Regions from separate parts of the Homo sapiens genome. Here region 1 is linked to region 2. The links come from fine-mapping of genetic effects on gene expression. A gene starts in region 2. The other region holds a variant in brackets. All regions are shown on one strand. Distances are between the middles of the regions. Region 1 has its middle 24 kb from the start of SPINK5. Region 2 holds the start of SPINK5 (serine peptidase inhibitor Kazal type 5).

The links. PIP is the estimated chance that this variant, and not a neighbour inherited with it, causes the effect.
Region 1: its variant is the best candidate, but not a certain one, in a credible set for the expression of SPINK5 in thyroid (GTEx, PIP 0.51).

The regions. Positions count from the first base shown.
Region 1 is chr5:148,031,390-148,048,542 of GRCh38, reverse strand. No RefSeq gene overlaps it. Among named protein-coding and RNA genes, the nearest start is that of SPINK5, 24 kb to the left of the region's middle. The variant T/C (reference allele first, on the strand shown) is at 8,082.
Region 2 is chr5:148,053,032-148,069,507 of GRCh38, reverse strand. It overlaps SPINK5 (serine peptidase inhibitor Kazal type 5), which reads right to left and starts at 5,528. Exons shown (of 33, transcript NM_006846.4): 1 at 5,409-5,528; 2 at 4,136-4,161. The coding sequence starts at 5,463.

The sequences.
Region 1 (17,153 bases), 21 kb after region 2:
CCCATCAACCCGTCATCTAGGTTTTAAGCCCCGCATGCAGTAGGTATTTGTACTAATGCTCTCCCTCCCCTTGCCCCCAACACCCCCAACCTGACAAGCCCCAATGTGTGTTGTTCCCCTCCCTGAGTTCATGCGTTCTCATTGTTCAGCTCCCACTTATGAGTGAGAACGTGTGATGTTTGGTTTTCTGTTCCTGTGTTCTCATTGTTCAACTCCCACTTATAAGTGAGAACATGCAGTGTTTGGTTTTCTGTTCCTGTGCTAGTTTGCTGAGAATGATGGTTTCCAGCTTCATCCATGTCCCTGGGAAGGACATGAACTCATCCTCTTTTATGGCTGCATAGCATTCCATGGTGTATATTTGCCACATCCTATTTCTCCAGATCCTCTCCAGCATCTGTTGTTTCCTGACTTTTTAATGATTGCCATTCTAACTGGCACGAGATAGTATCTCATTGTGGTTTTGATTTGCATTTCTCTAATGACCAGTAATGATGAACTTTTTTTCATATGTTTGTTGGCCACATAAATGTCTTATTTTGAGAAGTGTTTGTTCATATTCTTTACCCACTGTTGGTGGGAGGGTACTTTAGTTCAACCATTGTGGAAAATGCAGTGTTTGGTTTTCTGTTCCTGTGTTAGTTTACTGAGAATAATGGTTTCCAGCTTCATCCATGTACCTGCAAAGGACATGAACTCATCCTTTCTTGTGGCTGCATAGTATTCCACGGTGTATATGTGCCACATTTTCTTTATCCAATCTGTCATTGATGGGCATTTGGGTTGGTTCCAAGTCTTTCCTATTGTGAATAGCACTGCAATAAACATACATGTGCATGTGTCTTTATAGTAGAATGATTTATAATCCTTTGGTATATACCCAGTAATGGGGTTGCTGCGTCAAATGATATTTCTGGTTCTAGATCCTTGAGGAATCACCACACTGTCTTCCACAATGGTTGAACTAATTTACACTCCCACCAACAGTGTAAAAGCATTCCTGTTTCTCTACATCCTCACCAGCATCTGTTGTTTCCTGACTTTTTAATGATCGCCATTCTAACTGGCATGAGATGGCATCTCATTGTGGTTTTGATTTGAATTTCTCTAATGACCGGTGATGATGAGCTTTTTTTCATGTTTGCTTGTCACATAAATGTCTTCTTTTGAGAAGTGTCTGTTCATATCCTTCACCCACTTTTTGATGGAGTTGTTTGTTTTTTTTTCCTTGTAAATTTGTTTAAGTTCCTTGTAGATTCTGGATATTATACCTTTGTCAGATGGATAGATTGGAAAAATTTTCTCATATTCTGTAGGTTGCCTGTTCACACTGATGATAGTTTCTTTTGCTGTGCAGAAGCTTTTTAGATTAATTAATCACAAATGGGTGTTGGATTGGTCAAACACTCTTTTGTGTCTATTGAAGAGATCTTTTTGTTGTTTTTGATGTTTTTGTTGTTGTTCTTTATCCTATTAGTTATGTGTATTGCATTGATTGGTTTTTGGAGGCTAAGTCAACATTGCATTCATAAAATAATCCTTTTTGGTCATGGTGTACAGTCATTTTTATATGTTGCTAGACTCATTTCACTAGCATTTTTAAGCATTTCTGGGTGTGTGTTTATCAGGGATATTTATTCATACTTGTCTACTTGTGATGCTTTTGTGTGGCTTTAGTATTAGGGTAATACTAGCCTCACAGAATCAATTGGTAGGTGTTCCCAATAGTATTCCTCTATTTTTTGGAAGGGTTTGTGACGAGTTGACATTAATTCTTCACTAAATATTTAATAGAATTTGTCAGTTAAGCCATGTGGCTGTGGGCTTCTCTTTGTGGAAGATTTTTAATTAATTGACTCTCTATAAATCTTGGTTTTACTTCGGTCATTCATGCCTACCAAGGTATTCATCTTTAATTTGTAGTATTCTACATTTTTAGTATTTTAGGCAGTTGGTACAGAAGATTCTGGAAGTTCAATGTAGGTGAATGAGGTTTTGATGTTATCAATTAATGACCCAAGGTTTCTTCTGTGTAGTGTGAATAATATCACTATAACTGCTGTAGTTAGCACCCATTTATTTTGTGAGTCAAATGAATTAGAAACAAAGAAAATCTAAAGAAAAAAAGACTTAACTATTGGAGGAAACTGGGTAAAGTGTACACAGAACATTGTTGTACCATCTTCCAAATTCCTGTAAATCTTTTTTAAAACAAATATTTTTTTAAATTATGAAACAAAATATTTTTTAAAACAAGTTTTTACAAAAGAGGATTTTAAAATCCTACCTACACTTACTATATGACCTAGCAATCTAACACTACTTATTTATTCAAGAGAAATTAAAACATATGTCTATACAAAACCCATAAGAGAATATTTATAATGACCTGATTCAGAATCACTAAACACTGTAAACAAGCCAAATGTACAACAACTGATGAATAGGTCAACCAACTGGCACATCTACATGATGAATTTCTACTCAAGAATTTTAAAAAAGAAATACTATACCTGCTACAACATGGATGAACTTCAAAAGAATTATTCTTAGTGAAAGAAGCCTGAAACAAAATGTTACATACTTTAGGATTCCATTTATAGGACATTTGTAAATGGACAAATTTTAGGGGCAGAAATCAGAACAGTGATTGCCATTTGCTGGAGATCAGGGGAGGGGACTGACTACATAGGTACACATGGGAGATTTGGGGGTGACGAAAATACTCTATATCTTCATTCTGCTGGTGGTTGCATAAGTGATTTTGTCTACCAAAAGTCATGTAACTGCACACCCAAACTGTGAATTTTGCTTTTATAAAATGTATCTCAGTAAACCTAATTTTAGAAAAAAAAATCATATTCATTTCATACTATTTTTAAAGCATTATATATGTCTGTGTTAAGGGAGACAGAAATGGGTTTTCAAAAAAATCTTAACATTTGTTATCTCTGATGGGTGGAATTACTTATGACTTTTTAATGTTTCTCTTCCTACTTTTCTTGCCTGATAAATTTTCTGCACAAATTAGGTATTATTTTTAAGAACAAAAATGAATTTTTTTTAACTAAGTGAATATATATCTTTTGGGCTGGATAGAATACTGAAATTCATCTAGCACACCTCCTTCCTTTAATTTACAGACGAAGATAGGAGGGCTAAGACAAATAGAGTGCATTTCCTAGTTATTTCAAGTTTAAAAATAAGCAGCCTACACCCTCAATGACACCTTTCCCTGATATGATTCAACTACAAACGTCATGATTTATTTTGATGGAGAGGAAGCGTGATCGTTATCCTTTTAAAACACCCACACCGTAATTCCAAAGTAAAGTACAGTTGACTTGTGAACAACCTAGGTTTGAACTGCGCAGGTCCATTTATACACAGAGTTTTTTCACCGAAAGGCATATCCGAAAATACAGTATTTGAAGGATGCAAAACCGCCTATACCAAGGACTCACTTATCACATCAAATTGAGTAGGGTAGCTACAGGACTTAAGAACCTGCAGATTTTGGTATGTGCGGGGGTCCTGGAAATCAATCCTGGTCTATTCTGAGGTATGACTGTATTTCGGGATTTTCCTGGACTGTCTTCTCCAGACTGACCCAGACAGTGCGTCAACAGAGATCACTTCTCCAGTCTGCACCATACAGAGACCAGTGACATTTTGGAAATGTGTGACAAGCTAACACTTTGACCTCAGGCAAATCACCATGAGTATCATCCCCTTGATAAGACCATTGAGCAGATCGGGATGATTACATTACAGAGCTGAAGCATCTATTATTGGTAACAGTCAAGCTATACATAGCCAAGCCTTCTTGAGAAGGAAGCATAATTCAGAAATTCAGTGTTTGGCTTTGGAGCAATGCTACAGGGGTCAAATTCTGCCTTCTTTGCTGTATGAGGATGGGCAATTTGCCTAAACCCTCTATCTCAATTTCTTCACCACTAAACTGAGAGGTGGTAATCATGATTGTCACAAGGATTAAGTTAATTCATTCATGTTGTAAAGCCTTTAGATGATACTTGGCACATGGGGAATGCTCAATGTTAGCTATCATTAGAAGTCTTTTAATTGTTAGCCTGTTGATTACATCAAACAAGAGATCATAGTGGGGCAATTCACCTCTAAGTTTCTTGAAGTGCTGAATATTTTGTGGGAAGTGCCAAAAAACGTGCCTAATTTTAAGGGTACAAATTAGTAACCTCCAGGGTAGAGAAATCATTTACTTGTTAGTGCCCCTTCCTTTGAACAGTTTATTGTATTACAAATGGTGACGTCTTTGGAAGGAATTGGTTCACCTTCAATGAACAATAGCCACACGTGGCTGGAAGGATTGACAGGTCACTTGAGTCATGAAAAAATGACAACTTTTCAAATAGTTCAGAAAACCAAACAGCTCATTTAAAGCTCTTAAATGTTCAAACATCTTCTCTTCTTTAAAGAGAAGAAATGTCTTATTGAAAAAAAAAATGTCCTTTCATGCTGTTATCAATCCCTCTTATTTCTCTAACTTTCTAGCAAGGTCATGATTGTATTCAAAATGATATTTGTTATGGAGTTAGGAAGTCTGTGTTTTAATTCCAGCCCTCACATTTAGCTGAAGCAAGACTGTGAGCACAGATTACATTCCTAAATTACTCATGAGGTGAGGCACACTGGGAAATGAAACAAGAAGACAAAAAGAAGGCAGACCAATTAAACCGTACTTGTCGAGTATATCAGCCAATGTAATAAAAATATTGCCTCTGCAGGTAGCAGTACCTGGAACATAATAGCACTCAATATATACAGAATTAATTGATGACATCTTAGACCAGAACATTCCACCATTAAGTTACATAGAAAATAGCTATGAAAAGAGTGACAAAAGAATGAGATTTGGGGTCAAAACTGGGCCCCTCAACTTGTGTGTGATTTTTGACACGTTTATTTATATCTGAGCCCATTTTTCTTATTTATAAAATATAAATAATACCACCTATATATCAGTTTTGTCATGAAAATATAATTAAACTGTAAATGAACGTACTCCACAAGCTCTAAGGCGCCAAGCAAAAGCTAGCCCGTGTTCCTGATATGCCAAAAGCCTGGGTTAGTCCAAATTGGCATTGTGTGGGTCAAGCCGCCTCAACTCCTGCCTTCACCACGTATACTCACCTACATGGCTAGCTCATTGTATCTGTAAATTTCAAAAAAGGTAGAGGATGAGAAAAGGGAAGAAAGAGCTGACACTTTTCTTTTTTGCCTACAGATTAATCAATAATATACAATTTTTCATTAACATGAATCTTTAAAAAATACAATTTGTTGGTGTCTGGGTGTGGTTGCATTTTAAGATGCCACTGCTCTGAGGGTGGCTGGCAGCGGCACCAGGCCAAATCCACTGTGGGTGTGGAAACATCCAGAATACAAGTATCGCTCCACCCTGTTGTCATGTTGCCTAATTAGCTGGTATGCATGAAGCTGAACTGGAAAACAAAGCTTGGGAGTCAAAGTAATCTCTCATCTTAAAGCTGTGATGCAATGGGAAAATGGCAGCCTACTTATGGAGGAAACAGTGAATATCCTCTGACGTCCGTTTTCTAAGAGAGGCGTATGTAGAGACCTGGGCTCTACAATTCCCATGGAAGTTTACTCTTGATTCCTTGCCCGTTTAGGTTATATTTCTGAGCTCAAAAAAATAGTGCTTACTCCAGAGAAACTGTTTAGCCTAAGGCCTCTTTTCCAAGGGGAAAAATGACTATCATTTTAGGGCAAAAGAGCTGACTTTGCCAGATCACACTTTCTACCTCCATTTCTCTTTAAGTAGTGAGGATGGATATAGAAATGAACCTTGTGAGACAAGGAAAAAAGAAAGACAGAAAACCTGTTAGTTGGGCTCTGACAAGAAAACACACTCAGCCTTCTTGAGAGTCTAGTTCTAGAGAGAGTTCAGTACCCAAAGAACCAAGTATAGATTTATGAAGAGTCACAAACTTACCATAGCCTTTGACCTAGAATGGGCTGCAGTATATTCTAGTAGAGCATATTTAAATCCTTTCATTTTATTAAGAAGCTCTGGCAAGGGGAAGTCATTGATTCAAGAATAGCTAGAAAGTGGAAGAACTTGAACTCATTCATATTCTCCTGACTCCCGGTCCTAGGTGGTTTTCCCAAACCACAGCTTCTTTTTCAATCTTCCACCATGTCCGATTTTGGGGATTGACTCGTTTCATCACCCTGAATTCCAGGGGACAAACACACTCATCTCATATACAGCATTTTATATCATGGGTTTAACCTCCAGTTTGCATTTTTCTTAGCTTTGCTCCATTTTATTGCCTCTCAGCTAGCGGCAATTTTGCCCTTCAGGGGACATCTGGCAACGTCTAGAGACATTTTTGGTTGTCACAACTGTGAAGGTGCTATGGGATCTGGTGGATAGTGGCCAGGGATGCTGCTAAACACCCTACAATATTCAGGACAAACCCTTATCCCCGAAAAAAAAAAATCATCCCATTTGAAATGTTAATAGAGAAGTGAAGAAAGAAACTCTTTTCTCTGCTTAATAACCAGAATTAGCTTCAAAGCTTTGTTCATTATCTTGGTGATCAGACAGTCAATTCTGAAAGAAGGGACTCTGATATGTTACTTAGAGGGGATATAGGTACTGATAGAAAAAGCCAAGTAACAATTTTTTTTTTTTTTTGAGACGGTGTCTCGCTCTGCAGCCCAGGCTAGAGTGCAGTGGCACCATCTTGGCTCACTGCAACCTCTGCCTCCCGGATTCAAGTGATTCTCCCACCTCAGATTCCTGAGTAGCTGGGACTACAGGCGCTTGCCACCATGACTGGCTAATTTTTGTATTTTCAGTAGACACAGGGTTTCACTATGTTGGCCAGGCTGGTCACAAACTCCTGACCTCATGATTCGCCCGCCTTGGCCTTCCAAAGTGCTGGGATTTACAGACATGAGCCACTGGGCCCAGCCAACACTTATTTTTGAATAATCTACTAGATTGGCCAGTTTCTCATCTCTGATTTTAAAAATCAAATCCTTACTCTAGTGAGTGCAGAATGCCCCTCAAAAAACATTGAATCCATCAATTACCCATTTCAGCCAGAGATAGGACCATTTCAAATGATGTACAGCACTGGATTTTTCACCTTGGTCTTTCTACCTGTCTCCTCTAAGTTTTCCGATCATTATTATGTCTTCTAGCATCTCTACAGCTGAACTTCTCTGAGATCTAATTTCTAAACCCTTTCTTTTCTTCTTTGAGTGGCTTCCCACCTATGCTAAAACTTTAACAAGCTACTCAGAGACCCATAGTTTGTCACATTTTACAGCTTTATTTGTATTTCTAACTCTTTAGTCTTACAACCATGGTCTATCTCAAACTTGGGTTCCAAGGCTTACATTCCTAACTTGCTCTCTGCTTGCTCATTTAGAACCTTTCTAGTAGTCTTCCGGTCTTTCTCTGAGACTTACAATGTTTCTGCCTTTAATATATCTAACTTACTGTTTAAGCAATAAAATGTGCTCAAATAACACCTTGAATATAACCATAATATACATAATAAATAGAAGTGTTATGTGTTTAAGCAGAGATGAGAACAGGGTGCTTCAGCCAGCCTTCTCCTTTATTGAAAGTTCAAAGAGCATAACTTTTTAAATCATCAGTTTTTATCCAGGATCTAGCACACTAAGGACATGCAAAGAGGTATGTACATATTTATTGATATATTGATTAACTGGTGAAAAGGAAAAAGGCATATATAAAGAGTTTGAAAATCACAGTAATGACAATTGTGAACACTTTCTCCCTGCCATGTTTTCTCCTGTATTCAATTGCTCTGAGGTATGTCATATATCAGCTGAATGTTTCTCACGTTATGAAGAATTGTATGTTTCCGCACTGAACATGTTATTCAGACCTGCCATCCCTTTCTTCATTTTTAAAATCCACTTCTCATTTTTCATTTCCTCTATCAAAAACCTTTACTCATTCATTGATTCAGTAGTTTTTTAGTATCAGTTTCAAAGTTCTGTGGGTGTTACTGGCAATGAATCAGATACAAACCTTGCCC[T/C]AAAGGAGCTTATAATATAATAAGATGGAGAAGGCATATCCCTAGTGTAACCTACTTTGAAATGAAAAGTTATAACTGCCAAAAAATAAAGTCCCATGGGAATTTGGAATGGGGGAATTTACTCCTAGCTGAAAGATAAAAAAAAAAAAAAAGTATAGGACAAATAAAATTTGACAAAAACCTTAAGAGATGGATGATCTGGACACAGATATGTGGGTAAGTCTCAAAGGAGAATAGTTGGGGGGAAAGTGATATTGCAGAGTTTAATTAGACTGTAACAAAGGTGAATAAAAATAATGATAGACATGCTTAGAAAAAAATTTGAGTCCAAAATGCAAAGGAAACAATACACGGATCATAAGGGCTCATCCTGCTTTATTTCTCATGGCTTTCCTATCTGATATTTTCTGTTAGCAAATCTCCTCTTTATAGGAAGTTAATATACTCGGCTAATGTTATATTGAAGCAAACATCTTGGCTAACTATTCTGCTTTGAATATTTACTGAGTGTGGCCAAATCCTTGCATGCCAAATTGAGGAGTAAACTCTTCATAACTTACCTCCATAAATTAGAAAATATAATCAGTGGAAAGAGTTGTCAATTGTGCATCATCGATATGGATATATCTTTATTAAAAGTTTGGTAAAAGTTAACACAAACTACATTTTAAAATGCAACTGCAGTAAACAATTTTACTGGAAATTAGTCCAGCTGTACAAATAATAATTTGGAAAAAAAGTAAAATGAAAAATTATCAAAGTTGCTTTAAAAGAATACTGCAAGCTTGTGCTTTTTAAACATATCTATAAATCTATATATCTATTTATATCCATCTATACTTATCTTTTTTTATCTACCTACTCAAACATTCATTGATGATAACAGTTGCTATGACAAATGTAATAATAGACTGGTTAAAGTGGTGAGGCACAATGATTTGGAAGTCAGATATATTTAGAATTGAGTACTGATTTTATCATCAAAAAAAGTTACGCTATATGAAAATTGCACTCTCTGAGCCTCAGTTTCCCTATCTGTAGAATGAGGGAGAAAGACTAGTTGATCCATCATTTTCTTCCCAATTTTATGATGCAATGTTATTACAAGAGCACAGTATCAGTTGAGGAATCTGCCTACTCCCTTAACGTTGAAGTAGAGCAGTTTCACCTGCTACAAGGAAAGTTCTCTGTCCACCTGGCTTCAGGAACCATTCTCTCCTCAAACCTCCTCTAGGACACATGTGTCAACTAGATCACCCATTTAATACAATATTTTAATTACTAAATTATGAACTGCTTTTTCTTTTCATAGCTATGTATCTAACAGTGCAGACTCAATGTCTTATACATGTCTGTAACCACAATACCTAAAAGAGTATCCAAAGATGACAAATTTTTGTTGACAAGGAATTTTTTTTATTTTCTTGTCTTCCTAACATTTAAAAATTTAAATACCTAGAATGTATTCAAAATTGTGGATGTTGCCTGTTCCAAAAAAATTTTGTCATTAATATTAGTCCCAGATACTATAAAATTATTTTCAACTTAATTATTCATAACTCCAACAGCTCTGTGAAATATTTTTACTGGAATTTCGTGGCTGAGAAAAGATGGCTCCAAAGAATTAATTTCAGGACATAATTTCTAGGAAGTGTCATAGTCGAGGCTAAACCACATATATTCTAACTCTTGCCCTAGATTTCTTTCCCCTTCTAAATATCCATATGTGCTAATTAATTACTTTTAAGTCATCAATTTTCTCATCACATCTCATTTAAATGTCTCCTATCTCTCAAGACCCAATTGAAGCTTTAACACCTCTCAATTTTGATGTAATTTCTTCCCCCAAACACTTAAAAACCATATTTCTTGATCATATGCCAAGCTTACACTGAAAAAAAAAGAAAGATGGGTTCAAGCATTCCAACATACTGCTAGAAAATTCAGGGAATTTCAGAATATACTACCTATAGCCTTTTCAAGGAAAATAAAGAAAAAGCCAACCAGAAAAACTATGAGTTTCTATATGTCCCCTCATGTGAAATGAAATTGATATTGGCTGTTGCTGCCAGCTGCTGTCACATTGCCCAGCCTCCATCACTCTCAAATCTGGCAGTGTTGTCTGATCTATATCCCTATAACATTTATTAGCAAGGAAGGCAAGAACATCAGCTTTCCAATTAGATCAGAATCTTAAGTTCTGAATCCACTCTTTACCAACCATGAAAGCATTAGCAAATTACTTAAAATTTCTGAGCCTCAAGTGAGATTAAATTATTTCATAAAGTTATTATATTAAATATTTGAAAATTCTTAGGCTTTCATAGGTATTCAGTAAGTGGTAACTATTAATAGTTCCTTCCAAACACGAATCCTACTTTGTGACTTCTATCCACAAAAATCCTCCAGTGACTCCTTCCCGCCTTAGAATCAAGATCTTTCTATTCATCTCTGCTTTTCAAAGTCCAGATAATTTTGCTATTGCTTACTGTCTAAATATTTGTAAACCTATGTGATTCTTTGTCTTTGACACCATCTTGGCTTATGAATCTGTCTTCTTATTCCTTCATTTACCACTTTGGGAAGAGTAAAGATTTTAAAGTTAGACAGAGACAAACTGTGTTTGAATACAGACTCTACCACTTCATACCAATGGGATCTTTTCACTTAATCTAGTCCCCCTTTTAAAAGTGATTGTAATTCCAGGATTGCCATAATATCTCCAGTGCTTATAGCTAAGGGCCCAGAATATAGTAGGCACTCAGGAGTTGGTAGTGATGGTGATAATGAGGATGATGGTTTTTCTGGCTAAGCCACACATATTCTGATAATGAAGACACCTGAACAGAAACACAGAGAGTAGAGAAAGTTTTTCCCTTTCAGTATTTCAATCAAATCCTAACTAAATCAATACTGACTTATTCAGCTTGTGTGTATTTTTTCCTAACTACTAGAGTTTCTAATACCTGAACCACATAAACTATCTTACACTGTTTTCTTTGTGTAAATGAAACATTCACCAACCAGATGTCTTGTAGGTTGTCAGTAGCAGATAATGATTAAAAGCACAGATTCTGCAGGTAAATGACTAGCTTTGCATCTGTCACTGACTGTGTAAACTTGAACAAGTTATTTTACCTCTCCTTACCTCAGTTTACAGATACATAAATTCTGGATATTAATGATAGCTATGTCATAATTAAATAATTAAAGTTAAGTATATATACACATATGTATGTATAAATAAGTATACTTATTGAGAGTTTATGATTGCCAGGAACCATTCTAAGTATTATATACATATATATACACATGTATATAAGTATATATAAGTATATACATGTGTATATATATGTATACATGTATATACTTATATATACATGTATACATATAAGTATATACATGTACATATATAAGTATATACATGTGTATATATGTATACATGTATATACATATATACTTATATACATGTGTATATATATGTATACATGTGTGTATATGCATGTATATATGTATATAGTGCTTAGAATGGTTCCTGGCAATTATAAACTCTCAATATTATTATTGTTATTATTATTATTATTTCATTTCTTGTTCTCTCTGATAATCCTCTTCCCGACTCCCTCCCAAAAGATTCAAAATTAGCCAAAGAGAAGGCCCGCAGTCCTTAATGACCAGAAAGAGGATTCAATTTGGATTCACAAGGCTTAAAAAGAAAAACACTAGCAATGCTGGGAGAGTTTGTGGAGATGAGCATTGTTTATATGGTGCAGGGAAAGTGTGTATTGGTGCAGCCTTTTGGAAGAGCAATATGGAGGGTCCATAAATATCTTAAATGGTCATATAGTTAATCACTAACTGTGTAAACTTGAATAAGTTATTTTGCCTCTTCTTGCCTCTGTTTACAGATATATAAATTCTGGATATTGACGATAGCTATGTCATAATTAAATAATTAAAATTAAGTATATATACACAAACATATATATATGTATAAATAAAACAAAATAACAACAGAAACTTAAACATACACCCAAAGAAAAATGGCAAAATTCAGCATAGGATATCTATCATGCAGCTTTTTAGACTTCAGCCTATCAACCCTCCAGTTCTAACATTCCATTACCACAGCCTAGCTTAGAAGATGTCTCCAGCTTCAATACCATCTCCAAAAACGTAGGATTCTTATGAGCCCTTTCTGTTTAATCTCTCAGTAAGTCCTATTGACTCTTCTTCTACAACATGAATCTCTTCACAGAAACCGACACCACCATCTCTCACACGGACTGCTGCTCTGGCCTCCTCATTAGCTTCCTTGCCACTATCTGGATTTTCACATAGCAGCCTGACATGCCTTTTAAAAAATAAATGAGATTAAGTAAACAACCAGCCTAGAGACTTCTGATGGTTTTCCATCAAACTTCACATGTGGCATTAGGTCCACACTCCCAGCTGTGGCCTACAAGTTGCAAATAAATTTTTCTAATGTCAACTTGTACTATTGTTTCTTCCACTCACTTATAATATTCTGCTATGATCAGTCCCCTTCCTATCTCTCAACTGTGCCAAGCTCACTTCCACTTTAGCATCTTATAGCAGGTGCTTCTTGTGCCTGGAAAGCCCCTGCCATTGATTTGAGAGTGGCTGGTTCCTTTTTATTATACACAGCTCAACTTAAGATATTATTTTTTCAGAGAGACTTTTCTTTACAACCAAATCTAAAGCAGATTGTCCTCTACTACATCCCCAAGACCAGTTGCTTTTTAATGAAATGGCTTATTTTCATTTCTTTATACAATAATTACTGTCTGAAGTCTTCTTTTTGTTAACCTATTTACTTCTCTACTATTTGTGTTTCCCACCAGAATAGAAGCTCCACAAAGCAAGGACCTCACTTGAGAAAGAATTGCATGTTCTCTCTCGGTTTTTACTTCATGAAAATATCATTTTAAACTTATTGTTATCAGTATTATTGCCTATGTTATTATTATTTTATTGGCTGAGTTGAGAACTTATATTTAGTTTTTCCTACTTCAGAGCAAAAATAAAAGCATTCTTTTCATAGGTATTATAAACCATAAATATAACTTCTCCCACTCATTTTTCTTATTTTTCCATTTAAGAAATAGTAAATCTATTAATTTTCTCCTGATGATCTCAATTTTGCCTCAAATCTCATTACATCTCCAGCCATGTTTTCATAAATTACAATGTTGATAATAATTAAGATTTGTTCTGGTCATTTAACCTTAGTTCATTTAAGTATCCTCAGTAATCTGAAGAGGTAGCATGATACCTATTTTGTGAATAATATCTAACATTTATTGACTAATTATTTTGTGCCAGGCACTGTTAAAAGTATTCTTAATTTATCTTTGCAACAACCCATTTTACAGATCAGGAAACCAATGAATAGAGAAATAAATTAGCTTGTCTGAGATTTTACACATTGTTAATGGCAACTTTGGGATTCAAATCCAATTCATCTGAATCCAGACTCATTTTCTTAACTTCCGTACTATCTTGCTTTCCAATATGGAAAAACTTCCTTTGGGAGAGTTTGAAGGATTTGAGAGTAAGTGGCAGAACAGAGTTTGAACCAGAAACACATATAGTCAGTTCTTCATGTTTATGGGGTTCCTCATTTGTGGATTCAACCAAGCACAGATAAAAAATATTTGAAAAAGAAATTGCATATATGTACTGAAAATGTACAAACTTTTTTCTTGTTGTTATTCTCAAAGCCATACAGTATAACAACTATTTACATAGCATTCACATAGTATTAGGTATTATAAATAATCTAGGGAGGATTTAAAGTATACAGGAAGAAATGCCTAAGTTATATGCAAATACTTCACCATTTTAAATGAGGGACGTGAGCATCTGCAGATTTTTATATGGGGGAGGCCCTGGAGCCAATCCCCCAAAGATACCAATGAACAACTGTTCTCTAAACCAGTGATTCACAAACTTTTTGGCACCAGGGACCGGTTTTGTGGAAGACAATTTTTCTGTGGACAAGGGTTGGGGGGGGGAATGGTTTTGGATGATTCAAGTGTATTACGTTTATCATTAGATTCTCATAAGGGGCATGCAACCTAGGTCCTTTGCATGTACAGTTCACAATAGCGTTCATGCTCCTATGAGAATCTAATGACTGATCTGACAGGAGGCAGAGCTCAGCTTCACTTGCTTAAACCCTGCTCACCCTCTGCTGTGCAGCCCAGTTCCTAGCAGGCCATGGGCCAATACCAGTCTGTGGCCCCGGGGGTTGGGGATCACTGCTCAAAAGTGTTACACTATTTAGTTTATTCTAAAGAGATTTAGTGCCACAATCAAGGTCATGAAACTTCTCTTGACTAAGGAAGTCATTAGAACCCAAGGCTTCCATCCTCCAGTCACTGCTCATTCTCTTTTAACTGCCCCAGTTCATTCTCTATGGAAAGTTTCCCTCTTCACAGGATTGATTAAAATCCTGTGGCTGTTCACTACTCACTGCTTACACTCACTTTTGTCCCAGCAAATGTGAACACACAGGACTGTCCCAGAAAGGGAACTTCAGTGAGGAATTGCAGGAGCACAAGATAACAGATTTTGCTGAGAAGCTGCAGCACTAACAGCTGTCCTTGACTGAGCAGTACTCAAGTTCAAGGCACTATGAACACTTTGCATGCATTAACTCATTCAGTTCTTTATAACAACACTGTGAGGTAGCTATCATTACCCTCATTTCCAGGTGAGGAAACAGACTCAGTGAATTTAAGCAACTTGCCCACGGTTTCACAGATAGAAGTGAAGCACCAGGATTTGAATATGAGTCTGTCTGATCCCATAGATGACCCCTAAACACTACACATAGAGAGATTACCAAGACATAATTAGGCAGAAGCTTTGCATAAAGTCTTCTTTTAAGTCTCTTTATCAATGACTTTTAGAAATGTGATATAGACAATTCAATTAATATGTCACATGGGAAGAATGCTAGATGTGGGAGGGCTCAGAAATCAGTAAGGTCATCCTGAGCTACAAAAGTTTCTGACCTTACATTACAGAGGTGCATAAAATGTTCCACGCCCAGACATGCAATGTCATCCTCTCACTGGATGACACATTCAAAGCTGTCATTCCCAATATTGTCATGGTATCATGGCAACTGAATCAGGTCAGAATTCCTGCATGTTAATTATTGCAAAACAGTGGAAAGAGCCTCTCATTCTCAGAATTCAAAAAATCTTCAGAGTTCATCTAGCCCAATCCCTTTCATTGTATAGGTTAAGAAACTGAAGTCCTACTGGCATTAAAACACTAGGTAGCAACTTGAATGACTCTCAGCGACATTATATGGAGTGAAAGAAGCCAGACACAAAAGATTATATGGCATATAATTCCCTTTATAAGAACTTCCAGACAGACAAAACAAACCTATAGTAATAGAAGTTCAAACAGCAATGTCTGTGTCTGGGGGGAAGAGGCAATGACCATAATGAGGCACAAAGAAAACTTTGAGGCAATAGAAATGTTTTACACTTGGATCTAAATGGCGATTATACAGATACATGTTTACATAAATATTATCAAATTGTATACTTAAGATCTGCAAATTTTAATGTATATAGAGCATGCATTAATGAAAAGAAAAAAAAAAACCTGCCTATATTCCTGTCTGAATTGCATTCTTTATTGAATAATACCTAGAGATGCTTTTCTGGTAGATTTAGAATTACGTTTAGAATTGGAGACAAGGAAAATTGAGGTACCGAGCAGAGAGCAAGTTTTCTCAAGATCATATAATATGGAAAGAGCTAGAATTAGATTTTACATTTCCATGCTGTAATGCCTTGGAAATATCTGGTATTATGAATAAGTTTCGATGGAGGCCCCTGTGATAAAGTGCATAAAGCAAAGTAAAACCAATATTGAGTTTGAAGCCAGATAATCTGTACTCAAAGATCAGTAATACCATTATTTGTATAAATTACAATGCCTGGCACATGGCAGGCATTCAATGGATTTTTAAGGGGGTGAATAAGGTAGATAGAATTAAATATAAATTATTTATCTTTTCTAAATCTAGGAATGATAAAAATGAAAAACATTTGAATATTTTAAATCAGTAATCCTCAAAATACATTCAATAAAAAATGAGATACTTACAATTGTACCAATAGAAAAAAGCTTTCTAGGCTGGGTGCAGTGTTTCCTGCCTATAATTCCAGCACTTTGGGAGGCTGAGGTGGGTGGATCAATTGAGACCTAGAGTTCAAGACCAGCCTGGCCAACGTGGCAAAACCCCATCTCTAATAAAAATACAGAAATCAGCCAGATGTGGTGGCACATGTCGGTAATCCCAACTACTCAGGAGGCTAAGGCAAGAGAATCGCTTAAACCCGGGAGGTGGAGGTTGCAGTGAGCCAAGATCGCGCCACTGCACTCCAGCCTGGGCGACAGAGCAAGACCTTGTCTCAGGAAAAAAAAAAAAAAAAGAAAAAAGCTTTCTAGAGTCCAATGTGTTTGCCAATTTTAGTTTAAGCAAATTAAGTAACTTTGCTTGTCTGCAGAACTTCTGTTTAAGTGCTAAAAAATATTCCTAGACCAAAGAGATTCAGCTAAATGAAATTCCTGCAGGAAAATAAAGTTTGTAGCATTTTCTAAAACCATTTGATCACCAAATCCTCCTAGATTAGAATGTTTACTAAAATCTCACAAAGCAGAAACATAGAATATATAGAATGTTTCTATATACTTTGGCAACTATGCTGCATTAATAAAATTTTAGTTTGTTAGTCTCACTGGGTTAATAAATCATAAGTTGCCCCCTGAAAGGGGGCATTTCATTCTTCATTGGAATTTTTCCAAAGACAGGTTTCAAGAAGTATAAATTACATATTGCAGCAATAAATAAAAGTTCATTAATTTATGAAAAGATTTTTGTTGAGGAATACAAATCTTTTTGCAGGTCTCAGTGATCATCTCAACATCTTGCTATAAATAGAAAGGAAGAGATAGCTCTTTTTCAAGGATGTGGGAAAGCATCAAGTTCGGTCAAGGATACCCGGACTAAAAATAAAT
Region 2 (16,476 bases):
AAGGCTTTCTCTCTCTTTCTCTCTCTTTCTCTCTCTCTCTGGTAATTTTTTTTTTGGCACATCCCTTGGAACTAAAATCCTACTATGTTTGTTTTGGGCTTTTGGTTTTGTAAATACCAATAACTCCGTTATACAAAGTTTAAGGAGGACAGGGGAAACATTTTAAATAATAGAATTGGTGGGGAAAAGGAAAGTAGAATGATCTTCAAAAGTGGTAATTCTTTGATTCATTCAATATTAAATATTAATAAATAATATTAAATATTATTATTAAAGTCCTGCTATACATCACTCATTCTTTTTTAGGAGCTTAAAATATGGTGCATTTCTGCTACCTAGTAAAGTATGATTTTAAAATGTTATATTCCCTTTTAATTTAGAAAATTCACTAGGTATTTATTTATCTTTAGATGGAGTCTTGCTCTATCGCCCAGGCTGGAGTGCAGTGGCATGATCTTGGCTCACTGCAACCTCTACCTCCCAGGTTCAAGAGGTTGTCCTGCCTGAGCCCCCTGAGTAGCTGGGATTACAGGTGCATGCTACCACATCTAGGTAATTTTTGTATTTTTAGCAGAGATGGGATTTCACCATGTTGGGCAGGCTGATCTCGAACTCCTGACCTCAAATGATACACCTGCCTCAGCCTCCCAAAGTGCTGGAATTACAAGCATGAGCCACTGTACCCAGTGAAAATTCACTAGGTCTTTAGAATAGGCCTTTGGAATCTAAGGGGATTTTTGTTGTTTTTTGTTTTGATTTTTTTTAATCTGCTTCAAGTTGCTTGTATCAGGAAACAAATAAACAAAGCTTTTGCTTCAACTCTGACAAACACAACCTGTTCCAAAAAATTTATTAAAGGTTTCTATTTAGGCTCCTATATCTATATCTGGTGTTTTGTGCTTGTTTTTTCTTTCTTTCTTTCTTTCTTTTTTTTTTTTTTTTTTTTTTTTTTTGGAGAGGCAGGGTCTCACTACATCGCCCAGGCTGGTCTTGAACTCCAGTAGTCTCCTATATCTTTATGATCATCATTGAATGAGCCAGCAATCACTTATTATTGGATTACTATACTTTGCTAGGTGACATAGATACAGCATTAGGTAGAACAGAAGTATACTTGCCTGGATGAATAATGATGTACTTAATCTAGCCTCTTAAAAATGGTAGGCAGTTGGTAGCACTTGCAAAATGATTAATGGTGAAGGAGAATAACTAAACGATATCACAGACCAGCCCTGGGAAATTTAGCTAAGGATGGCATGCTTAAATATCTCTAAGATTATTATAGCTACACAGTGACTCCATCAGAGTAGCAGAGTAGTAATTTCTGGACACAGATTAATAACTGGGCATCTTGAGACCTGTCTGATCTCTGATTCTACAGTATCAAATGCCAACTTTGCAAGTTATGCTTACCTTGATGAATATAATTGATCCTAAAATCCATATAGTAGAATCAGAGAAGAGCCTGGGGTCTTTGTAATGAAAATATATCCCTTATTAAGTAAGTCTTATAGAAAGTATATAGACGACTCATGATAATCCTGGAATAAAGCTCTAAATAATTTTGAAAGCTTATCATAAAAGAGTAGCATCAGGCCAGGTGCAGTGGCTCATGGCTGTAACTCAGCAATTTTGGATGCAAAGGGAGGAGGATTGCTTGAAGCCAGAAGTTCAAGATCCTCCTGGGAAATATAATGAGACCTTGTCTCTACTTATAAGAAAAATTAAAGAGTTGCATCAATAAGAATAATCCCTAAATTGGACTTCTCCAATATCACTGTTAGATGAGAACTTAATTCCTAGAAAGACTCCCTTTCTTACAAACTGAGCATCAGAGGCCCAAATAATAGGTTAAGAAATTTGTTCACAGTGATTAATTAGTTAAGATGAGATTCAATGCTATTTTTCTGAGTTATGAAATTATCCAATGTATTCTCTTGGGAAACAGGAAAAGACCATAAAAATGGAAAGCAGCAGTTGAGTTTTTCTCTGAGCAAAATGGAATACCCTTTCAATGACCATAATAGAGAGGGTTGAAACAGAAGCATATTTAGACCAAAAGTCATCCTGAGTTGAGTAGATGACTTTTCAGCACCTGTTTACTTGCAGGGTAACTTCCAGTCCCTGGCCTGTTTTTGTTTTGTTTTGTTACTGTTGCTGTTATTCTCTTTTTCTCAGCATGTCCCAGGAAAACTGGAGCCCTCTAGGGCCAAGTTCTTCCTGTTTCCCTCACTGGCTGAGGCCTAATTTGTTGTCTTCTATTGTCCATCTCCAGATATTATAATAAAACCCTCCAGGAGCTGCCATTGCCCTATCTCAGTGTTAGAGCACTGACCAGCTTGCTTTTGCCTGAAGAATGACTCTTAGGTGATGACAAATTTAAGCATGCTTAAGATCCTTGCAGATTGCTGCAGTGCTTTTCCCTGCTGTTTAGGTTCATGTTTATGACATTTAACATGCTTTTATCATGCTGAAAGGAACCCAAGCTACTAAACTTGGAAAATAACCAAAATCACAGCATCGTAAAAAAGACTACATCAATAGTTTTCATTTCTGACACAGTATCCAAAAACTCTGATTAGAAAGGCTTCCAAATAAATAATTACTTCTTTGTGTTCTTGCCTTTAATACCAAATATAAGAAGTCACTAAATTTGTTTTTAAAATATTTTTCAGTGAAATAGAGGTTAATGCTATGAAAAATAGCAGTGTAAAATTCACAGTATCTGCCATAAATCACCAACCATCATCACGGACTCTGAAAAAGAAAATGATGGTTTTATACACAATGATATTTATATAATATCCTTCTTTTTTCCCAGTATAAAACTTCCAAGTGAGCATGCTCTCTGATTCCCAAATGTCTAGCTTATTTTCTACTCTACTGAACTTTCTGGACCTCTCCCTATCAGTAAACTTAGATGAAATAGTAGAGAACATGATAAAATTCTCTAGAACACTCATGTAAGAAGTTTCTTTAAAAAAAATCATTGCAACAAAATACGGCAAGAGAGTATTTTAACCATGGTTCTCAGAGTTTCAACGTAAAGAATAGCTGTTTCACATTTTTATTCCTTTAATGTTCGTGGCCAGAGATAAAACAAATTTTGCCACATATTCAGCAAAACATTTAAGATTGTGCTTTAAGTGCTGAATTAATAGCATGCATAGCAGTGTGTGTGTATATAAATATATAAAATGTGTGTGTGTGAGTAATTGGTCATCCTATCTTTCAAATAGATTAAAAAATTTAACTTCTAGTAGAAAATGATTTTTTAATTTATCAAACAAAAGAGGTTTAAGAGTTGGTAAAGCACCTTCTTGCGTCAGGGCCTCTGCGCTCACAGGTGCTTCTGTCTGGCCTGCTGTAAACTGCAAATACCTTCGTGGTTCATTCCCTTATGACCTTCAGATTCCTATTCTAATACTGTCTGTCCAGAGAGAACTTCCCTGATTATCCTTATGAGAATGGATACCACCTCCATTCTCAGGGATCCTATTATGCCTCCTGATTTATTTTTCTCCTAGCATTTATCATTATTTAACGTACCATATGTTTTGCTAAGCTACTTATTAATTTGTCTGTTTTCCTACACTAAAACGTAATTTTCAGGGCAGGAATTTCATCTATTTTGTTTACTTAAAAATAACCCCAGCATCTCAAACAGGGTCTGACATCTAAGAGATGCTCAATAAATATTCATTACATGAACTATATACACCGACTATATACAAGATACAGACCACCCTCTTTTGCATAATGATTACTAGAAAATTTATTTCAGCTTCCTATGTGGTGTATCATGGCTTGTTGAGATGTTAAATGGAACAATAGTAGTTTTCCAGTTGATTTATTTTTTGTTTATGAAATTTTAAAATGCTCCTTTAACATGATAAATTGCCTCTTGCAGACATCCATCATCATTAATATGTTGAGTGTGTGTGTGTGTGTGTGTGTGTGTGAGAGAGAGGCTCATGTCCTGATTCATAAAAATCTGTTTCTGTGTTTTTAACAAAAGCTATTAGTACCTACCAGTATAATATGTTTGTATTATTAACATGAAGGTGTTGGCCACAAACCACTTTTCTTTGGGAATCTTGGAATGAATTCAATGAACAGAAAAAGCAGGACTAACCTGATCTTCATTCTTACTGGCAGCATCTGGGATGAAAATATAGAAACCAAAGTTAAGGAAATGTAAAATATTTAATAAACAAAACAAATAATCCATTTAATGCAGCATCTTGATTGCTTTAATGACAATATGTTGTAAAACCGCAAATGGTTTTTGAACACATTAAGATTTATCATGGCAAATAAAAGAAGGGCACTGGACCAGGAGATTAGTATATATACTCACAAAGGTCTAATCACTCAGAAAGTTACAATTACTTTGGAAAATAATACTCATGTGAATTCTAACCCCATCAAAATAGCTTATCTTCAAAAGGTCCTTTCGGAGTAATAAATGCCAGCCTCCCTTTTAAAATTACAATATAACATACACACAAAATACTATACCAATTATAATTTTGAAACTATATTATAGTTGAAACTATAATATAGCATTACATTTATAGGATATATACATAAAATTTAATTTTCTGAATTCTGGCAGCTCTACCTCCTTATTACAGCTGCAAAAGTTAGAGATCTGACAGAAGGTAAGATTAAGGTCACAGGCTATTATACTCTCTCATTAACATAGGCTCTTTTGTACCTACACACCTATTTTAGGAAAATGGGCATTATTTGTATATGATTTCAGACTATCTATGAGTTTCTCTTTTTAAAAATTTTAATGTTTCAGAGCAACGTAAGTCTAGGCAATTTGTGTTCTCTTAGGGTTAAATAGCAAATATAAAAATCTACCTTCCAGCTCCCACAAAAGTCCCTCACTCTTTGGGAGAAATGCTTTCAACCCATTTAGCATTTGAAAACACAAGACTAAAATAAGCTAGAAGATACCACTGCTTTAAAATAAGAACAGATGATTGAATTTTAAAAAATATTTCATTTATACCTATAACATTAAAATACATATATTATTTACAATTAAGTTTTAAATGTCTATTACATATATAAGAATATGCATTATGAATTGATACATTTAGCAAGAGGAAGATGAAGAAGAATCTATTCAGTTTTCTGAATTAATAAAGAATTAATGGAAGAATTTCTCATGGTTAGAAAATTCAGATTATCTCAAACTACTTGCCATTTCTAAAGATAACAACATAATTATAAAGCCACATATATAAATCTTCAGAACTCTGTGTCTGGCAAGACATTTCAGGATTATACATGCATACGTAAACATTTTTTGGCAGGAGTAGGGGGAGAAAAGTCCCTTCCCCAGGGCTTTGAGATGTGTGGCAAGAGGCTTAGATTACACACAAATTGCTCACCTTGTATGAGGCAAAGAGCCAAGGGCAGAAGCACTGACACTGTGGCTATCTTCATGTTGAAGACGATGCAAGTCGCCTACAGGTCCACTCCATGCATTGCTCAGCTGGTGCAGTATGACTGAACTCGGGGCGATGCAGTTTACTTTTATAAAGCACTGGTGACACCCACATAAAACCAGTTGTTCAAGGTCATGGGACTTATATACCACACCACTTTAGCTTCCATCCTTTAGGATCCTGTCAGGGTGTCAGGTTTGAACAGAGAATATCTATTTCTAAAGTAGGAATGTTCTTTCATGGTACCTCCCCCAGAACGCAATTGATGGAGTCCACAGACCCTACTCAAAGTTGAATATTCTATAATCCTATATAATAACCGAATTCCTCAGAAATACCAGATATACTACCTCGTAGACAAACATGTTTCTGACTGGACTCCCTTCATAAGTGGGAGAGGAGAGGAAAGGAAGACAGATTGGTTGTCCTACCAGTCAGGTATAGATTTAAAGATTTCCACATCCAGAGAAATCCAGGGTTCCTGTTCTGAAGTGTCTGAGTTCAGTGTCACAGACTCATATATATGTTAGAGTTGAACGACCCTAAAAGATAACCTGGCAAAATTCTAATGTTGAATATATAGGGAGGCAGGAACTCAGAGGAGCAATGACTTTCTCATAAGCAGACAGTTTAGTTGGAGCAGGCAGAGGAGGCATCCAGCACTTGCAAGCAGACCACACATATAACATTCTTTCCTCTCTGTACACTGCTTCATCCTTAGACATTAGAAAAGGCAGGAACGTTGGAAAAATAAAACTTGTATGTAACTACTTTTAAAACTTCTCAATCTGCAGGATATTTTATATTCTGAAGCCTTATTTTATATCCTAGCCAAACATCATAATCATAAACATTGGAGACTCAGTTTAACTTTCCATAGCCTATGATTACCCATATTACCGTTTGAAAAATTTGGCTCAATCAGTTTTCTCTAAATCATATTTCTTCCTGTATCATCCCATTATTTAGTCTCCCAAAAAGAAAAGAAGAAAAAAGTTGTTAACAATTATAAATGTGTAAATGTAACATTTTTCTAGAGAAAGTTTCTTCTCTTTAGTTGCTTCTTTCATCCTACAAGTAACACCTTTTTTCTACCAGCTTATTTTGCCCTAATAGCTTAAGAAAGCACCTGAAGAAACATGTGAAGATGACTGAAACCAGAGCCAAATTGTTTCATTCCAGTACTTCTCAAGATATTCACATCCACAGAAGAAAAGTTCGAGACTTTATCCAATTAAAGGCCTTTTTATGATGGTTCCAGAAAACTGATCAAAGTTGCCCAACTTAGGGAGTATGCCAATATTATGAGATTTATCACAGTGAGATAATACGTCCTTTCTTTTTTCTCTCATGAAATAATTTATTTCCTATAAAAATATAATCACTGGGCCAGGCACAGTGTATCACGCCTGTAATCCCAGCACTTTGGGAGGCCAAGGCTGGCGGATCATGAGGTCAGGAGATCGAGACCATCCTGGCCAAGATGGTGAAACCCCATCTCTATTAAAATACAAAAATTAGATGGGCTTGGTGGTACGCACCTGTAGTCCCAGCTACTCTGGAGGCTGAGGCAGGGGAATTGCTTGAACCCGGGAGGCGGAGGGTGTGTGAGTTGAGATGGCGCCACTGCACTCCAGCCTCAGCGACAGAGCAAAACTCCATCAAAAAAAAAAAAGATATACACACACACACACACACACACACACACACACACATACATATATATACACACACATATATATATATATATAAAATCATTGGTTTCAAGGTCTGCACTATTGTTGTAGCTTGGCTCCTTTCCAATGGAATAGTAAAATTAGTGACCACGGAAAGCAAGTTCAAATTCCATTATTGTTACAGGTTAGAAAATCAAAGTCCATCATAGCTTAATGGAAAGAGAATGAGACAGGGTTTCAGAAATCTGTTTCTATTCTATGTAGTCTTTTCAACTATGTAGGGATAGAAATGAACCCAGCTTTGAAGCAAGCTAGAAATGGGTCCAAATCTTGAATTGTTAGCCATGTTGCCTTGGACAAGTCACTTATTTTCTCTAAGCCTCAGTTTCCTAATATGTAAAATAAAAATAATAACACGTACATTGTACTAGTGCTAAGAGGTTTAGAGATAAATCATATATATAATGCGTGTGTGTTTGTGTGTGTGTGAGAGAGAGAGGTGCTTAGAACAATTATCAAGTTTATGTGATAAGCTTGATAGTTAATGATAGCTGGTCTTGCATTTTTACATAATTATAATAACGTGGTTGTACTAGATAATTTCTAAGATACCAAGAAAAGTAAACATCTGTTGACTGTGGATTTCACCAATAGATTTATATTTACTCAGCATAGAAAAACTACCCCAACACAATTTGAGGTGAAATTAAACTATAACGATATATGTTCTCTTTTTCCCTTTTAATTGTATTTTAAACCATAATGCCTAAACAAATCGAAACATCACCTGTTAAAACTTAACGAAAACCATTGCTCTGTTTCAATCAGCATTGATTTCTTGTCTCTTTCTCTAAAAGCCTCTTCTAAATATTCACATATCAATACTAATTTTTTATCTTTCATCTGCCCTGTCAGACCATACGAAATGTGTCCCAACCATATATTCTGTTATTGACGGTAAAAGAGTTTGATGCCTTAAAATGGAATCAATGACTGTGTATTATGCTCTAGTGACCCCTAGCCTAGCCCAAATGGAGAATATTCCCAGGAGTGGAAGTGGTGCTAGGGTGGAACAGAAGAACCAAAAGATGATTGCCTGTCTTAGGAATCTCTACTATGAGGAAACATTGAAGACATTGGTTTCCTTCTTACTGGAAAAGAGCTCCTCAGAGATGCCAGCCTTTTCTGAAATGATGAATAAAAAGTTTGAAACTGATATCTTTTCCAAATGGAGAAAGTAGTAAAAAGAAGATTCAGTGAGCACCCCCAAAATTGGAAGTACTCATCAGCTGGCTCATTTCATTAGGGCTTCTTCTCCATTTCATTTTAGGAATGTTGTAAAGCCAGAGGTGATTCATCACATGCTCTGTTAATTACTCCTCATTCCTGAAAATCACCATGAATATTACATTTAAATGAATGGGATTGAAGGTTTGGAGAACTCAGGTTTGGGTCAGAGTTAGGTTATCAAGGTATTCTTCTAACTCAAAATATCATCCTTGTTTTTAACTCTTTCAATTATTCATCAAACATGTAGAAACTTTTTTCCTCTCATTAGAAATGAGTGGGCTTAGATAATAAAAACTATGAATTTTACAACCTTACGCATTTATGAGGTTGGCAGAATCTGAAGGATACTGATACAGGGGGAGGAAATGAGAAAATTATAAAGATTGTTGTAGATCAGTAATGTTACTACAAACAAAGGTTATTTCCAAAATATAAAGTTACCATATCATTCCTAAAGTCTTCTGTTTTTCTACACAGAGGGAGCCTTGATGACGATAATAGTTAATAAATAACTATAGTCTTTTATGATTAGATCACCTTCCACAGCTTTCAAAACAACCTGCCATTCATTAGCTCTTTTGATTTGTTTATGCAGTGTTGTGAGGCAGCCAATTAGGTGTTATTATCTTTTCTTTACCAGCCAAAATTGGTGTCATAAAAGAAACCTGCAGTAGGAACTAGCTGGGATGGTCATCTCAGCCTTGACACTTTCTTACATTTTATACCTTTAATTTCTCTGAGTTTCCCCACGGCCATCTCACAGACTTTTATACCGTTCAAAGAGAATCCAGATCGAGACCATCCTGGCTAACATGGTGAAACCCCGTCTCCACTAAAAATCCGAAAACATAAAAATTAGCCGGGCGTGGCAGAGGGCGCCTGTAGTCCCAGCTACTCCGGAGGCTGAGGCAGGAGAATGGCGTGAACCCGGGAGGCGGAGCTTGCAGTGAGCCGAGATCGCGCCACTTCACTCCAGCCTGGGAGACAGCGAGACTCCATCTCAAAAAAAAAAAGAGAATCCAGACGTTACAGTGCTTTAAACTAGATACAGCCCTATGCATGCACACACACACAGACACACATACACAATCACTTGGGCAAAAAGAGGTATGTTGTGACCATGAGTAAAATTTATATATTCTAATATATCTTAAAAGATGAAATAATTTCTTTTTTATTTTTTTATTTTCTTTTCTATAATTCTAATATTTTCCCCCATCAATCTAACATGTCTATATTCTCCTGTTTGTTTGTTTGTTTTGAGGCGGAATCTCACTCTGTCCCCCAGGCTGGAGTGTAGTGGTGCAATTTCGGCTTACTGCAAGCTCCGCCTCCAGCGTTCATGCCATTCTCCTGCCTCAGCCTCCCGGAATAGCTGGGACTACAGGCGCCCACCACCGTGCCTGGCTAATTTTTTTTTTTTTTTTTTTTTTTTTGTATTTTTAGGAGAGACAGGGTTTCACCGTGTTAGCCAGGATGGTCTCGTATCTCCTGAACTCGTGATCCACCCGCCTTGGCCTTCCAAACTGCTGGGATTACAGGCATGAGCCACCGCGCCCGGCCTATATTCTCCTTTGTAAAAGACACTAACTGGAAAACAGCCTTTACTCATCTTCTTATCTGGTAATGTTGCATTACCAACTAACTTCACTCTCTCTGTAGGAATTCCTTTCTGTTTGTCTGGAAAGACTAAGAAACTAGAGATAAGCCTCTCATTTTATCTAATAATAGAATGGGATGGGCATTGTTTGTTTACTGAGTATATAGACCCTGCTATTTACAGACATAATTACTGCTTTTATTAGATTAGGATTAAGAAGACAGGAATTTCAATGTCTAATTTTTAATTGTATTAATATTTTCATATGGGTTATATTTTATTTTAGAAACAACAATCAGCTTCTCCCTATAGCTGATATTACTTGAACCCCTGACCCATGGCCCCACACTGTTTATCACTCAAAAATTTAGTGCATTTTAAAGTCTCCTAGGATTTATCCTGACAATAGAAAACAGAGGTTTGAGGAGCTACAGTCTTTCAATAAATCATAACAAATTAATCCTGAAGTACCTAAGAGTCTACCGGCCGGATGTGGTGGCTCACGCCTGTAATCCCAGCACTTTGGGAGGCCGAGATGGGCGGATCACGAGGTCAGGAGATTGAGACCACCCTGGCTAACACGGTGAAACCCCGTCTCTACTAAAAATACAAAAAAATTAGCCAGGCACGGTGGCGGGTGTCTTTAGCCCCAGCTACACGGGAGGCTGAGGCAGGAGAATGGCGTGAACCTGGGAGGCGGAGCTTGCAGTCAGCTGAGATCACTTCACTGCACTCCCGCCTGGGCGACAGAGCAAGACTCTTTCTCAAAAAAAAAAAAAAAAGTCTACCTAATTTTAGCAAAAAAGCATTGCAAATTTTATATGTGTAATATGTGTGTGTGTGTGTGTGTGTGTTTACAGTAGGGAAGAATGAAACTGTTAGATTTATAGCAAAGTTAGAAAAAGATTATCTTTACAAAATAATTTGTAGGCCGGGCACCGTGGCTCACTCCTGTAATCCCAGCACTTTGGGAGGCCGAGGCAGGCAGATCACGAGGTCAGGAGATCGAGACCATCCTGCCTAACATGGTGAAACCCCGTCTCTACTAAAAGAAAAACCCGTCTCTACTAACAATAATAAAATTAGCCAGGCGTGGTGGCGGGCACCTGTAGTCCCAGCTACTCAGGAGGCTGAGGCAGGAGAATGGCATGAACCCAGGAGGCGGAGCTTGCAGTGAGCCAAGATCACGCCACTGCACTCCAGCCTGGGTGACAGAGAAAGACTCCAACTCAAAAAAAAAAAAAATTGTAAAGAAATAAAATTTGCTAACACATTTCATGCACTTAGGTACAACAATAAATATAAAGATTAAGTATCATTTTATTCTTACAGGTAAAGCAACTGAGGTTTGGTGAGATTCTATAACTTTTCCAAGGTCATACAGCTTGTAAGCAGTGATCTTGCAAATGATCACAGTCAATGTAATAAAGGCATTCAAACTCCAGAGCCCAGCTTCTTAAACACTACACACCGTAGTAACCACATTGCCTACAACTGTAACTAATGTGTCTCAGGTACTCAATGTTAAGAGCTAAACTCTGTCTGCCCAAAATTTATATGTTGAAGCCTTAAACCCCACTACTTCAGGGTGTGCCTATATTTGGAGATAAGTAAAAGTGGTGGTTAAGTTAAAATGAGGTTATAAGGTTAGGCCTTAGACCAAACTGATTGATGTCCTTACTAGAAGAGGAAATTTGGACACACAAAAGAGACACTAGTGATGCACACACAGAGGAAAAACCACATGAGGACACAGTGGGAACTTGCCCATTACAAACCAAGAAGGAAGCTTCAGAGGAAACCAAACTTGCTGTCACTTTGATCTTGAAATTCTAGCCTCCAGAAATGTGAAAATATAATAAATTTATGTTGTTTAAGTCACCCAGTCTGTGGTATTTTGTGGCGGCAGCCATAGCAAACAATACACTCACCGTATGTATTGACCCAGTCACATGCAAACTGTGTAAAAATGTATAGACACAGTTATACGGTTGAAAATACAGTCTTATGTAGGCTCCTTTCTCTTTAAGTAACCAGTACATTAAACTTATGATCCTGTAGAATAGTGTTAAAGAGAAACAGAGCTGAATATTTATTAAAAGTGGCAAGACTCACTTTATCTGGGCTATTCCAATAGAGAAAAGAAACTCCAGTAGAAACCAAGCTCAATTCTGCTAAAACCAGAGGCAGGATGCTTTTTTAATGCTGAGGTGTGCTGTATTAGTTCATTTTCATGCTGCTGATAAAGACATACCCGACACTGGGAAATTTACAAAAGAAAGAGGTGTATTGGATTCATAGTTCCACGTGGCTGGGGAGGCCTCACAATCATGGTGGAAGGCAAGGAGGAGCAAGTCACATCTTTGTAGCAGTCAAAGAGAGATTGTGCAGAGAAACTCCCATTTTTAAAACAATCAGATCTCAAGAGACTCATTCATTATCATGAGAACAGCACAGAAAAGACCCACCTCCATGATTCAGTCATCTCCCACTAGGTCTCTCCCACAACACATGAGAATTATGGGAGCTACAAGATGAGATTTGTGTGGGAACACAGAGCCAAACTACATCATTCTACCCCTGGCTCCTCCCAAATCTCATATCTTCACATTTCAAACCTGATCATGCCTTCCCAACAGTGCCTCAAAGTCTCAACTCATTTCAGCATTAACTTAAAAGTCCACACTCTGAGACAAGGCAAGTCTCTTCCACCTATGATCCTGTAAAATCAAAAGCAAGTTAGTTACTTTCTAGATACAATGGGGGTACAGCCATTGGGTCAATACAGCTGTTCCAAATGGGAGATATTGGCCAAAACAAAGGGGCTACAGATGCCATGCAAGTCGAAAATTCAGGAAGGCAGTCAAATCTTAAAGTTCCAAAATGATATATTTTGAATCTATGTCTCATATCCAGGTCATGCTGATGCAAGAGGTGGGTTCCCATGGTCTTGGGCAACTCCACCTCTGTGGCTTTGCAGGGTACCGCCTCCCTCCCAGCTGCCTTCACAGGCTGGCACTGAGTGTTTGTGGCTTTCTCAGGCATATGGTGCAAGCTACCTGTGGATCTGCTATTCTGGGTTCTGGAGGATGAAGGCTCTCTTCTAACAGCTCCACCAAGTGGTGCCCAGTAGGGACTCTGTGTGGGGGCTCCTACTCCACATTTCTCTTCTGTACTGCCCTAGCAGAGGTTCTCCATGAGGACCTCACCCCTACAGAAAACTTCTGCCTGGACATCCAGGCATTTCCATATATCTGAGATCTAGGCTGAGGTTTTCAAACCTCAGTTCTTGACTTCTGTGCACTCACAGGCTCAACACCATGTGGAAGCTGTCAAGGCTTCAGGCTTGCACCCTCGGAAGCCATAGCCCAAGCCATGGCCCCCTTCAGCCACTGGAGTGTCTTCAACGCAGGGCTGCACACAGCAGAGGGACCCTAAGCCTGGCCTAGAGAACCATTTTTTCCTCCTAAACCTCTGGGCATGTAATGGGAGGGGCTGCCACAAAGGTCTCTGATATCTCTTGGAGACATTTTCCCATTGTCTTGGGGATTAACATCAGGCTCCTTGCTACTTATGCAAATTTATGCAACTGGCTTGAATTTCTCCTCAGAAAATGGATTTTCTTTTTTTTTATCACACTGTCAGGCTGCAAATTTTCCAAACTTTTATGTTCTGCTTCCCTTAAAAAGCTGAATGCCTTTAAGAGCACCCAAGTTATCTCTTGAATGCTCTGCTGCTTAGAAATTTCTTCTGCCAGATACCCTAAATCATCTCTCTGAAGTTTAAAGTTCCACAAATCTCTAGGGCAGGGGCAAAATGCCACCAGTCTCTTTGTTAAAACATAAGAAGAGTCATCTTTGCCCCAGTTCCCAACAAGTTCCTCATCTCCATCTGAGACCACCTCAGCCTGAACCTTATCATTCACATCACTATTAGCATTTTTGTCAAGGCCATTTAACAAGTCTCTAGGGAATTCCAAACTTTCCCACATTTTCTTGTCTTCTTCTGGACCATCCAAACTGTTCCAACCTCTGTCTGTTACCAAGTTCCAAAACTGCTTCCACGGTTTTGGGTATCTTTTCAGAAACACCCCACTCCTGGTACCAATTTACTGTATTAGTCCGTTTTCATGCTGCTGATAAAGACATACCCAAGACTGGGCATTTACAAAAGAAAGATGTTTATTGGATTTACAGTTCCACATGCCTGGGGAGGCTTCACAATCATGGTGGAAGGCAAGAAGGAGCAACTCACATCTTACATGGATGGCAGCAGGCAAAGAGAGCTTGTGCAGGGAAACTCCTACTTCTATAACCATCAGATCCTGTGAGACTTATTCACTATCACAAGAACAGCACTGGAAAGACTCGCCCCCATGATTCAGTCATCTCCCACCAGGTCCCTCCCACAATACATGGGAATTATCGGAGCTACATGAGATGTGGTGGTGACACAGACCCAAACCATATCATGTGCTAAAGGAAAAGTACTAAAGGAGATGTCAGGGAAGGTTGGTCATTGTGGTTAGGCCATTTGTGTTTGCTAATTTATAGATGCAAGTTTTCTAAAGTAAATGCTCTAAGAAATGGGAGGTCATGGGTCTACAGTCAGGTAAATAGTAAATTATTTAGGTAGCATTGAGCTTTTCAGATAGGAACTTAAGCAGGGGCTGGGTCATCAGGAACATGTTCTTGAGGTATTAGAAACTGTGGTAACATTTGTTCAAGCCTCTTAGTACAAAGGGAGGTAGACATCATCATTTGGGCTAAGAATTTGCAGTTCTCATAGGCCAAGGTTAAGGCCCAGTCAAAAAGAGGGTTCAGAGGAATTTGATTAAAGTTTGGTCGAAGAAATAATCTTTGCCATTAGATAAAGTAGAAAGCCAACTGGTTAACAAACTTTCAGGTTGGAGTTCACATATTGCATTTGTTATCAGTCTTTTGGCTCCTTTGTATAGATTTTATCTTTTGTACTCTCAAGGGCTTTAATGCACACATTTTGATGTCCTCCAGCAATGTGTGTAACAGAGCTAGACAGACTTCCAGACTTCTCTTGCTTTAACCCAAATACCGTTCACCAAAAATGTTTACTTGATAACGTTTCCCATTACTAAAGCATTCACATATTGCTTCTTTGTTTTGTAGGATGATCTTTTCCTTTACTTCTATATCTTTGCTTGTAGGATTCCGCTTAGACTGTGTGTTCCCAGAGGCTCCCTTCCTGACCCTTAATAGAGTGTTCTTACTCTTTGCCCCTCAGTACCCGGTGCCATTACTACTTCCACACCTTGCACTCATGACACAGTCTTGAAATTGTCAGTTGACTTGTCTATCTCTCCAATTAGATAAATGATATTTTTAGTGAAATCAATAAATGAATGAGTAAAAAAACCCAAAAAGATGAATTCCGCTTTATAATCTACAACAAATTTCCACAATTACTGTTTTATTTCATCTCAGTTGCTTTAAGAAAGAAGGCTGGTTTAAAAGGAAGGTAACAAAAACGTAGAGAGGCTCAGTGACTCACAGCAGGCCACATGGCATGTAAGCGGTCAAGCTGAGACTCAAATCCATGTTGTAAGGTTTAAAAATTAAGAATGTACCAAGTTAAACAGCACTAACCATTGTGTCACACCACAACCTTGATTCAATAGACAGAAAAAAAAAGGAAGAAGCGAATGAGTAATAACTCTAAAATCAGGGAATTCTCAGGCGTGGGACCAACTCACTAAAATGTGATTTAAAAATTTAAAAATCTAAACCCAAGGTTAAGAAATTATTATGGTATTCCAGATGAGCTCCATAATACTCTCCAGGTGAATATGACAAATATTAACTAAATGCCTGCATTTGCCTAGCACTGTGTTAGAGCCCAATGTTAAACTTCTAAAAAAAACAGATAGAATCTCTGACCTCTGAGAGGTCAAATTTTAATTTTCATATTTCTGAGCAAGAAACTATACATAGTGGACATTTATTTGCCATCCACATAAACAACCCTGGAAAAAGTAATAACTGTCTTTTGTCTACAGTACAGGGACTATTTTTTCTGTCTCTTCTAGATAAAAAATACTTGTTATGCTGCTGGGAAAAGTACTTAAAAACTGTATAGAAAATTATTTAAGTACTTCTTACAGTTATTAGCATTACTAAAGGCATTTGTTTGTTATATTATTATAGAGCAATTTTATGTATAATTTATTGCCTAATAGTGCATAGTTATAGAATAACTTGTATAATACCAGTTTGCACACAATATGTGTGTATTAATATTTAAATATTTACATTCTGTTTATTTTATATAGCTGATCCTCACCTTTAAATTAAGGAGAGAGAAGGTGTTATTTCCATTTCATGGATGAGAAGTTTAAAGATCTGCATGATTGACTAATTTGTCTCAAATCTATTAGCCATAAATGGAAGAGCTGAGACAGGAACTCAGGCCT